Linked DNA regions of Homo sapiens. The protein of the gene in region 1 interacts with the protein of each later gene in a pairwise test. Each region holds a gene or a part of one and is shown in the gene's direction. Other genes may lie near its edges. The genes, in order: LAYN and MFSD11.

Region 1 (4,821 bases):
TAGAAAAAGGCAAGTAAAACCTTCATTGTGTAAACCTTTGCATCTTCTGCTCTCTTTGAGATTTGGATATTGCCTTGTTTACTTCATTAAAACCCACGGCAGCACCAAGAGTATCACCATTGCAGATTGGAGAGTGGGTTCTCTGACAGGTCAGGGCATTCAGAAGTACTAGGCATTTGTGCTTAGTTGTGATTAAGAGAGTGATCTTACTTGCTTTACTGTCTGTACGTGGAAGATTTTAAAACAACTTGAAGGGTGAAATTGCATTATTCACCTCCCGTGCACTCACACGTCACCCAGCAAAAATGCTCTCATGAATGTATGCCCTCACTCTGAAAATGTTTGTGGACTGAGTGAAGGAATGAATAGTGAGCCATATGAAAAATGACTGCTGCAAAGTATTCTGGTAAACATCTGAAACTAAACCACTTAATTCAAACTGAAAGAGCCAAATTCCTTTTAACTGACTTTTCTTTTAATTCAGTACACAAGTATAGAGTGCTATAAAATAGCTACACTAGGTGGCATCAACAATTTCTGTATATGGTCAGGATCGTGTGCCACTATTTTATTTTATTTTATTTTATTTTTAGTACTGAAAGCTCTTCTCAGTTACCTTTTTATTCTCCATCATCATGGTATATGGAGAAGATGTCTAGTATTCCCATTTACAACAGGAAAACTAAGGCCCAATTTAAGATTTGACTCCCTTTAAAGACCAATTTGAGATGAATTAGTAAGATTCCAATGTAAAATCTATTTCAGTTAATTGTAACTTCCTTGTAGGATTATTATAAGGATTAAGGCAGTTAATACTTGCAGAATAAGTATATACTAAGCACTTGAATGTTACCTATTATTGGGATTATTTTATTAGTTATTTCCTTTGAATCTTAAAGTAGAATTTAGTTCAAAAAATTACAGGCATATTTTCCAGCTGCCTACTCTGCCTACTCAGTTGGTTCTTGATTTCCTTTCCTGACTCTCTGTTTTGTACTTTAACAGGATTTGGGAATTGTGACTCTAAAGCTGGGGTGTCTGTCTATCCCAAGGGTTTTTAATCTTTTTTGTGCCCTGCAGCAGTCTGGTGAGGCCTATGGACTCCTTCCAGAACAATATTTTATTTTATTTATTATTTTATTTAAAAAAATATATATATATATATATATTTGAGACAGAGTCTTTCTCTGTCGCCCAGGCTGGAGTGCAATGGCGCAATCTCGGCTCACTGCAACCTCCGCCTCCCGGGTTCAAGTGATTCTCGTGCCTCAGCCTCCCAAGTAGCCGGGATTACAGGCACATACCACCATGCCTGGCTAATTTTGTATTTTTAGTAGAGATGGGTTTCACCATGTTGGCCAGGCTGGTCTCGAACTCCTGACCTCAGGTGATCCGCCCACCTCAGCTGCCCTAAGTGCTAGGATTACAGGCATGAGCCACCACACCCGGCCCAGTACAATATTTTAAATGCATAAAATAAAATACATTGGGTTGCAAAGGAAGCAATCATACTGTTATATAGTTTAGCAAAATATTTCCAAAAATGAATATGTGATTAGTAATACATGTACTCCTTTATTAATGCTTCTTTATTTAGTGCTGGGTATAATTATTATAATTTTGAAGTAGAGATGAGGTTAAAATATTTCAAGGCATCTATAACTGTGATATGAAAACATCTATAATTTCTAGTAGTGATCAAGTCAAAGATATTAATCCTGCTGTTTTATCTCTTACATTCATAATGGAAGGACATGCTAAATTTCACTTATGGATGAGTCGTGTTTTTTGTTGTTTTGGTTTTATTTTATTTTATTTTATTATTTTATTTTATTTTATTTTATTTTTGAGACAGGGTCTCACTCTGTCGCCCAAGCTGGAGTGCAGCGGTACCATCACAGCTCACTGCGGCCTTGACCTCCCAGGTTATCCTCCCACCTCAGCCTCCCAACTAGCTGGGACTGCAGGTGTGCACCACCATGCCTGGTTAATTTTTGTATCTTTTATAGGGACGGGGTTTTAACATGTTGCCCAGGCTGGTCTCAAACTCCTGGGCTCAAGTGATCCACCTGCCTCAGCCTCCCAAAGTGTTAGGATTACAGGCGTGGGCCACTGTGCACAGCTGAGGTGTTTTTTTGTTTTTTTGGGTTTTTTTTGTAATGTGGTATTTTTTCTCTATTCAGTTCTATCCCTGGACACTCCAGGGACTCTAGGGAACCCCAGGATAATAACCCTGCCCACACTTGGGCAGCAGTGAATGACAGATACACAATCACTTTGAACATAACATCTCCCTGTTTGGTTCCCTCCCACTCCGAAGCCCTGGCCTGTAAGTTACATAGACGAGACATGCAGCTGGGTGACTGCCCAGGGCTGCTTCCTCTCGTCTCAACAGGAAGCACAAGGGTATTCTCAATCACCTGGTCTAAAACACTCAGCCCTGGTTTTCTTTCTTCCTAGAAAACGGGAGCAGCCAGACCCTAGCACAAAGAAGCAACACACCATCTGGCCCTCTCCTCACCAGGGAAACAGCCCGGACCTAGAGGTCTACAATGTCATAAGAAAACAAAGCGAAGCTGACTTAGCTGAGACCCGGCCAGACCTGAAGAATATTTCATTCCGAGTGTGTTCGGGAGAAGCCACTCCCGATGACATGTCTTGTGACTATGACAACATGGCTGTGAACCCATCAGAAAGTGGGTTTGTGACTCTGGTGAGCGTGGAGAGTGGATTTGTGACCAATGACATTTATGAGTTCTCCCCAGACCAAATGGGGAGGAGTAAGGAGTCTGGATGGGTGGAAAATGAAATATATGGTTATTAGGACATATAAAAAACTGAAACTGACAACAATGGAAAAGAAATGATAAGCAAAATCCTCTTATTTTCTATAAGGAAAATACACAGAAGGTCTATGAACAAGCTTAGATCAGGTCCTGTGGATGAGCATGTGGTCCCCACGACCTCCTGTTGGACCCCCACGTTTTGGCTGTATCCTTTATCCCAGCCAGTCATCCAGCTCGACCTTATGAGAAGGTACCTTGCCCAGGTCTGGCACATAGTAGAGTCTCAATAAATGTCACTTGGTTGGTTGTATCTAACTTTTAAGGGACAGAGCTTTACCTGGCAGTGATAAAGATGGGCTGTGGAGCTTGGAAAACCACCTCTGTTTTCCTTGCTCTATACAGCAGCACATATTATCATACAGACAGAAAATCCAGAATCTTTTCAAAGCCCACATATGGTAGCACAGGCTGGCCTGTGCATCGGCAATTCTCATATCTGTTTTTTTCAAAGAATAATAAAATCAAATAAAGAGCAGGAAACAGAGTGTTAGTCTGTGTCTACAGCCCTTCCTCTGCATGTGGCCACAGGGGACCTTTTTTTGTTTCTCCTGACATCCAGACTTGGAAATATCTAACTACTTGCAAAACTAAAAATGAGGCCAGGCGCAGTGGCTGACGCCTGTAATCCCAGAACCTTGGGAGACCAAGATTGGAGGATAGCTTGAGTTCAGGAGTTCCAGACCTTCCTGGGCAAAATAGTGAGACTCTGACTCTACAAAAAATTTAAAAATTAGCAGGGCATGGTGGCATGCGCCTGCAGTCCCAGCTACTCAGGAGGCCGAGGTGGGGGAATTGCTTGAGCCCAGGAGGTTGAGGCTGCAGTGAGCTAGGATCACGCCACTGCTCTCCTGCGTGGGCAACAGAATGAGACCCTGTCTCTAAACAAAAATATTTTTTAAAGAAACTAAAAATGAAATTTGAGTCTCAGCTTCTAGGCTTATGTACTCCCATCCCTGATACTACACGTTGTTCTGTTTGCATGTTTGTTACTGCAGCATCAACATAACATGACTAATAATGATGACAGTTCTACCTTTTGTTGACAGACCTCATTGTTTCAATTGTGTTTGGCCTCAAATTCAGAGAAAAGTTTCTCAGCCCAGCATCAATCATATACACATTGGAGGTCTGAAAGCCATTATTTAAATCACCAGCAATTTCCCTCAATCAGCTTCATAATCTCATATTTTAACCTTTCCTCATATGTCTTATTTTTTAATAGCTCAGCAACTTTGCTTCACATATGGAGCCCCAACCTCTAGAGTTAACTAGTCTGGGTCAAAGCAGTATCGAATGTAGTGGATTGGAATCCCTGCCAAATTATCTGCCCTACTGCAGAACTGAATATACTAGGAAACAAAACTCCCTGTTTTGGGAAGTGTGTTTTGTGGTTACATTTCAAGCAAAAACTGAGCACATGGTCCTGAAGGACTGATTCACTGCTCTAAAATGCCCAAGGTTCCATTCTTGCTTCAGACAGCCTCGCTCTATCATCTGCCCTGTATCCTGCACTGTGCCCCACAACTCTGGCCCTTATTACACTGCAAGCTTCGCTAGTAGGAATCCTATCTGCCGGTCAGCATCATGGGTCCTGCAACCCATGGCAGCACCTTGCAGGGTAGGCAATCAATGTCTATTGAATGGATGAACAATGCATCTTTTCAGACTGATGTCAAATAGTTTGAATATTTCAGCTTAAAAGTTTGTTTTTCACAGTCCCCCTAGGTGGAGGAGGTAACTGAGTCATTGTAATTGGAATGCCTCCCAAGAAGGAAGCATAGTAACAAGTAAACAGATGCTGGTGAATTGTGCTAACAACTTACTTTATGTCACTCATGCTTGAACTGAGGACCCACTGTTAATCTATAAAGGGAGTAAGGTTGTAATCAGAACAGACCCTCAGCATCTTCCCTTCCCTTTTTTCATTAATGTGTTGTCTCTTCTGGGACCTAGAGATCTCTTCTGTGTTTGTACA
Region 2 (7,295 bases), on another chromosome or scaffold:
TTGTCAGGATCTTTCAAGTAGATAGTAAACTTCACAATAATTTATAGACTTGGACTGAATAGAATATAGGTGGTATTTTACGAATTTTGGCTCAGTACTTGTTGCTCAGGGATATCATATTCTAATGTGATAGGATGTATCTATATCTGCTTTTGTTTTATTGTTAATAAAAATAGTATCCAAAAGTCTCTATGAGGGTTGAAAAGAACATTCTATGAAATAATCTTATTTTCTGTCAATTGACTGAAAATATGTGGGGATTCAAATGAAATAACTAAATCTTTCTCTGAACTCTAGAACTATAGTTCCATGATGTGCTAAGCTTTTGGCAAAGAACACTGCAAACCTGTAAAATGTCTGATTTTGCAAATCTGAAATAATAAATTATGGGCCAGGCACAGTGGCTCACACCTGTAAATCCCAACACTTTGGGAGGCCGAGGTATTGCTTGAGCCAAGGATCACTTGGGTCCAGGAGTTCGAGACCAGCCTGGGCAACATGGTGAAACCCTTGTCTCTACCAAAAATAAAAAAAAATTAGCCGGGCTTGGTGGCACATGCCTGTAGTCCCAGCTACTTAGGAGGCTGAGGTGGGAGGATGGCTTGAGCCCAGGAGGTGGAGGTTGCAGTGAGCTGTGATGGTACCACTGCACTCCAGCCTAGGCAATGGAGTGAGACCCTGTCTCAAAAAAATTAATTAATTAAGAAATGAGAAAGTTGATTGTGTCCCTTTTTTCAAAACTGGAGCGATCCTTTACAGGTTGAGTTTTAAAAGAAGAGAATGTCAGAACTGATTCCTAGAAGGCATAATTGGCATTCTATTTCAGGTATCGTTTGACTGTAATACCTTGACCTGTTATATTTTAGCATGTACATTGCCGTTTTCATCCAGCCTTTCCCGTGGTCCTTCTACACAGCCTCTGTTTTCATTGGAATTGCTGCTGCTGGTAAGCATTTTGATTTTTAACTTCTCTGCTTTCTTTTCTGGGGCCTATCTAAGGGTATTATTTATGTGTTTAGTATGTGACTCTAAGTGAATTTCTTTCCCTTGATAAACTTTTGGGTTGAATTTTAGTGCTTTGGACAGCACAAGGAAACTGCCTGACAATCAATTCGGATGAGCACAGCATTGGGAGAAACAGTGGGATTTTCTGGGCACTTCTGCAGTCTAGGTAATTATCCTTTTGAGGTTCAGTCTTTCCTTTTCTTTCTTTTTTTTCTGTCATACCATTTTTTAGGTCTTTGGTTGACAATTTGGATCTTCCATGTTACGTGACTTAAGTTCTAGCTAAATGTGACGTGATTCCAATTTTATAGAATCACTTGTAATAATGGCTGAGTATGGTGGCTCACTAGCTACTCAGGACTATTTATACCAATACTGAATATAGCATACTAACTTTTTTTTTTTTTTTAAATGAGACGGTGTCTCACACTGTCACCTGGGCTGGAGTGCAATGGCACGATCTCGGCTTACTGCAAGCTCTGCCTCCTGGATTCAAGCAATTCTCCTGCCTTAGCCTCCTGAGTAGCTGGGATTACAGGCGCCCACCACCACGCCCGGCTAATTTTTTTTGTATTTTTAGTAGAGACGGAGTTTCACTATGTTGGCCAGGCTGGTCTCGAACTCCTGACCTTGTGATCCGCCCGCCTTGGGCTCCCAGAGTGTTGGGATTACAGGCGTGAACCACCGTGCCTGGCCTTAACATTTTTCTTAAGAAGAAAGCAAAACAGCTATTCTGCTCTTGACTGTTGGATTTCTGGAATCTCTTCTGAGGAATCACCCTCATGAATCGCGCCTAAAATTTTGGCCTTGACAAGGCTTAACAAATGCAAATGTTACATTTTAAAGAGTTGTATATTAAGAAACTAGTGTGTAAGTGAATGATTTTTCAGGAAAGTATGCTAAAGAAAGTATTTGATTAGATGCAGATAACTAAATCATGGATTTTTAGAAACAGATTCTTTAAAATTTAGCTTAAGCTTATTTCCAGGGAGTCATTTCCAGAGTTGCAATAAATCACATGTTTCAAAGTGAGTCAATTCTTCTTTGAAGGGTGCCTCTGAATCAGGTTACTGTCACATGGAAGGAGACTGAATTCCATCTGGGGCAGTTAAGTTTATCAGAGTCCAGATGAAGCTGATACTTTTAAATGACCCAGGACAGGTAGATACTTTAAAAATGATGTCCTTCTCTCTCCCTCTCTTACAACAAATAATGGGAATAATTATTTTTAAAAAACTATAAATATTAAAATAATTACCCAACATCCTATCCTCCCTTTTCTTCCCCCAGCTTGTTCTTTGGAAATCTCTACATATATTTTGCCTGGCAAGGGAAAACTCAGATATCAGGTTTGTTTTATTCGCGTTGCTTTATTCAGATATGTTCAAAGCATAATAGGAGTTATATAGAAATACCCATTATTGCTTTATTCAAGCATCGTTCTCATGAACCCCGACACCTCAAGTTCTCGCAGATTTTAGCTTTTAGTAAGACTTTTCCTTGGTTTATATTATTATTATTATTTTGAGATGGAGTTTCACTCTTGTTACCCAGGCTGGAATGCAATGGTGCCATCTTGGCTCACCGCAACCTCCGCCTCCCGGGTTCAAACAGTTCTCCTGCTTCAGCCTCCCAAGTAGCTGGGATTACAGGCCTGCACCACCACGCCCAGCTAATTTTGTATTTTTAGTAGAGATGGGTTTCTCCATGTTGTTCAGGCTGGTCTCAAACTCCTGACCTCAGGTGATCCGCCCTCCTCAGCCTCCCAAATTGGTGGTATTACAGGCCTGAGCCATCCCTCCCAGCCTGGTTTCTATTACTAAACTAGGATTATAGTTTATGACTATGCTTTAAGGGGCTTCTCAGGGTCTAAGGGAAGGTTATGCTGTGCACGAGCTTACGAGAATACTGCGCACGAGTATGTGGTTCTCAGAAGACTTCTGAATGCTCAGTTGTTTTCTCTGGACCCTTCTTTGATTAAAAGAAGGCGATTAAGCCCTTGTGCTGTTTTTCTTTGGCTTATTCATATTTCTCTAACTGAAAGACAAAGGTGAAGGTATCCTATTTGTCTCCTTTTCCTAGGTTTTTACTGATGCATTAAAGTAAAAATGTAACGAGGAAGTGTGTTGACAGTTGTAAGCAGCCCTTGTACCGTGATACTAATTCTGGAATTGTTTGGTCGATACTATCTTGTTTCTTCTTTTTTCTCCGTAGAGAGTGACCGAAGAACAGTGTTTATTGCCCTAACGGTGATTAGCCTTGTGGGGACAGTTCTATTCTTTCTCATTCGGAAACCAGATTCTGAAAATGTCCTAGGAGAAGATGAGTCTTCTGATGACCAGGACATGGAAGTCAACGAGTAAGATGTTGGAAACATTCTATTTTATTTTAAAATAGATTTTGAGTAGATCTAGTCTAGAGATTACCAACCCGTTTAGCCCTAACTGATGTCCAGTACTCTCTGTAGGTTACCACAGGCAAGAAAAGGAAGAAAATAAAGGAGGAGCTGCGAGGGAGGAAGAAAAAAAAGGTCACCAGAGGAAGGGAGGTGGTGAAAAGGTGCACAGGGAAGTTGAGTCTGTTCCTGGCCTTGCCACTGATGTGTGTGACCCTGGACAGTGGCAGCAATTCCTTTCATGTCTCCAGGCCTCAGCTTTCTCACTCAATCCATATGTTTCCATGGGCAAGGAAATAGAAGGCAGTGTTGACCTTGGTTACTGTTTCTGTGATCCAGCTCTAAAGCTTTCCTGTTCTTGTGGTGTGAGTGAGTGGCAGGGCCAGTGATGGTTGTCACAGATGAACCTTGGTTATCACTAGGCTCTTGCTTATGGTGTCCGGCTCTTGCACTAACTTACATAGGCGGTTTTCCCCAGAGTGGTCCAAATAGGGGAATGAGTATACAACCCTGTGTTTTGTAAAAATTGTAAATTACCTAAGCACATTTCAGTTTCAGGTGACACTATTTAAGCATGACAGGCTAGTGATCTGCAGTATCATTTAGATTTGAGGAAGGAGAGATGAGAAATTAATCTCTGCCACCCTTGTTTTGCTTTGTTTGTGATACATTGTGAAGATTGCCTTATAGCATTTTATATATTGTTAAAACTTTCGCATTGAGCATCCCATGCTGACTTTGTAATCCAGAAAGGGCCTAAAATTGTCCAGTCATAGGAGCATTAGATGCTCCAGATTTGCAGTAAGTTTGTGTAAAGCAGAAGCAAGGCAGCGCTTTGGTCTGGATATGCTGCCATGCCCTGCTTTCTTGCTCTTTATTGTGCTTCACAGACACTGGGTTTTTTACAAATTGAAGGCTTGTGGCAACCCTGCATCGAGTAAGTCTTTCTCTCCATACCACTTTTCCAACAGCGTGTGGTCACTTTGTGTCTCTCTGTCACATTTTGGTAATTCTCACAATACTTCAAACATTTCATTCTTATGACATCTGTTATAAGATGTGATCGGTAATCTTTGATGTTACTATTGCAATTGTTTTGGGGCACCACAAACCAGATCCATATAAGGTGGTGAACTTAATTGATAAATGTTGTGTGTGTTCTGACTGTTCCACTGCAGGCCATCCCCCATCTCCCTCCCTCTTCTCCTGAGACACAGCAATATTGAAATTAGGCCAGTTAATGACCCTACAATAGCCTCTATGTGTTAAAGTGAAAGGAAGACATGCATGTCTCTCACTTTATTATTTACTTATTTATTTATTTATTTATTTATTTATTTTTTGAGACGGAGTCTCGCTCTGTCACCCAAGCTGGAGTGCAGTGGCATGATCTCGGCTCACTGCAGCCTCTGCCTCAGCCTCCCAAGTAGCTGGGATTACAGGCATGCACCACCACACCCGGCTAATGACTAATCAAGAAATGACTAAGCTTAGCAAGGAAGACATGTAGAAAGCTGAGACAGGCTGAAAGCTATGCCTCTTGTGCCAAACAGCCAAGTTGTGAATGCAAAGGAAAAGTTTTTGAAGGGACTCAAAAGAGCTACTCCAGGGAACACACGAATGATAAGAAAGTGAAACAGCCTTATTGCTGATACGGAGAAAGTTTTAGTGGTCTGGATAGAAGATCAACCCAGCCACAACATTCTCTGAAGCCTAATCCAGAGCAAGTCCCTCTCTTCAATTCTGTGAAGGCTGAGAGACGTGAGGAATCTTTAGAAGAAAAATTTGAAGCTAGCAGAGGTTGGTTCGTGAGGATCAAGGAAAGAAACCATCTCCATGACATAAAAGTGCAAGGTGAAACAGCAAGTGCTGCTGGAGAAGCTGCAGCAAGTTATCCAGAAGATCTGGCCATTATAATTGACAAACGTAGCTGCACTAAACAACAGGTTTTCAATGTAGACCAAACAGTCTTACATTAAAAGATGCCATCTAGGAATTTTATAGCTAGAGAGAAGTTAATGCCGGGCTTTAAACCTTCAAAGAACAGGCCGACTCTTGTTAGGGGATAATGCAGCTAATGACTTGAAGTTGAAGCCAGTGCTCATTTACCATTCCAGAAACCCTATGACCCTTAAGAATCATGCTTAATCTACTCTGCCTGGGCTCTAGAAATGCAGTGACAAAGCCTGGATGGTAGCACATTTGTTTACGGCATGGCTTATTGACTATTTTAAGCCCACTGTTGAGACCTACTGCTCAGAAGAAAAGGTTCCTCTCAAAATATTACTGCTTATTGACAATGTACCTGATCAGCCAAGTGCTTTGTTGGAGGTGTACAAGGAGATGAATGTTGTTTTCATGCCTTCTAACAACATGTGTTCTGCAGCCCCTGGATCAAGGAGTAATTTCCATTTTTTTTTTTTTGAGACAAAGTCTTGCTCTGTCACCCAGGCTGGAGTGCAGTGGCGGGATCTCGGCTCACTGCAACCTCTGCCTCCCGGGTTCAAGAGATTCCTCCTGCCTCAGCCTCCTCAGTAACTGGCATTACAGGCGTGCACCACCATGCCTGGCTAATTTCAACTTTCAAGTCTTATTATTTAAGAAATACATTTCATGAGGATATAGCTGCCATAGATAATGATTCTTCAGATCTAAGCAAAGTAAATTGTAAACCTTTTGAGAAGGAGTCATCATTCTAGGTAGGTCACATTAAGAACATCTGTGCCTGGGGCTGGGTACAGTGGCTCACGCCTGTAATCCCAGCACTTTGGGAGGCTGAGGCAGGTGGATTGTTTGGGCTTAGGAGTTTGAGACCAGACGGGGCAACATGGTGAAACTTTTTTTTTTTTTGAGATGGAGTCTCACTTTTTCACCCAGGCTGGAGTGCAATGGCGTAGTCTTGGCTCACTGCAACCTCTGCTTCCCAGGTTCAAGTGATTCTTCCGCCTCAGCCTCCCGAGTAGCTGGGACTACAGGCACATGCCACCATACCCAGCTAATTTTTGTATTTTTAGTAGAGACGGGGCTTCACTATGTTGGGCAGGCTGGTCTCGAACTCCTGACCTCGTGATCCACCCGCCTTGGCCTCCCAAAGTGCTGGGATTACAGGCGTGAGCCACCGCGCCTGGCAAAACATTTTGTTTTAAAGCACAAACCAGTAGTTACTGGAGAAGGAGTCTGTGAAAGTGAATACCACAAATTCAATGAAAACTGACCCCCCCATTCAGCCAGCACATGTTTGGTGTTGGTCCTAGAGGACAAATGCCGCCCATCCCTGTTTTTAAGGAACTGCCAAGTTGGGGAGGTGGATGAGGGGTTCTGTAACTGTGAGCTGGCGTTCTTCTAGAAATACTGCTCAGCCTTTGTAGCATTCTCTCTTCCTGAATCGTCTCCTAAATTTGGAGCTTCTGTGTCTTTGTTCTACAAATAGCACAGACTTGTGGCAGCCCTCTTCTATGCCTGAGGGATATAGGCGTGAACAAGACAGATAAGTCCTTGTTCTTACGGGACTTAATTTTAGAGGGGGTGGTAGACAATGCACGTGTAAGAAAATAGCAAAGTGAGTGTTAGGAAGACTGTGAAAGAGGGGGAGAGTGGGGGGGAGGGGGGAGAGTGGGGTGGCTCCCTGAGACGTGGCTGGTGAGACATGAAGGTCAGCGGGTGGCCTTTGCCAAAGCCAGGCAGTGGGAAGGGCGTGGTGGGCTCTGGTCTCCAAGAAGGAAGAAGTGGAAGCAGTAGACAGGGTCAGATTATGTAAGCCAAGATAGGAGGTTTGTGTTTTCTTCTTAGTGTGATTAGAAGCTGTTGAGGGTATAAGTAGAATTCTGTTTTAAAGGTTCCCACCTAAAGGCCTCACAGAAAAAGATTTGAAGAGGTCCAAAGAGACAGCTCTGTC

Evidence for each region.
Region 2: the proteins of LAYN (region 1) and MFSD11 interact in binary tests that used the Homo sapiens proteins (3 or more experiments, as listed by UniProt).

What each region holds. Positions count from the first base shown.
Region 1 is NC_000011.10:111,557,635-111,562,455, forward strand, and holds the end of LAYN (layilin isoform 2 precursor), read left to right. Parts: coding exon 1-9; intron 10-2,460; coding exon 2,461-2,824; 3' UTR 2,825-4,111; downstream 4,112-4,821. UniProt on the Homo sapiens protein: Receptor for hyaluronate.
Region 2 is NC_000017.11:76,741,103-76,748,397, forward strand, and holds part of MFSD11 (UNC93-like protein MFSD11), read left to right. Parts: intron 1-826; exon of another isoform or gene 827-866; coding exon 867-946; intron 947-1,074; coding exon 1,075-1,171; intron 1,172-2,295; coding exon 2,296-2,354; intron 2,355-3,219; coding exon 3,220-3,364; intron 3,365-7,295.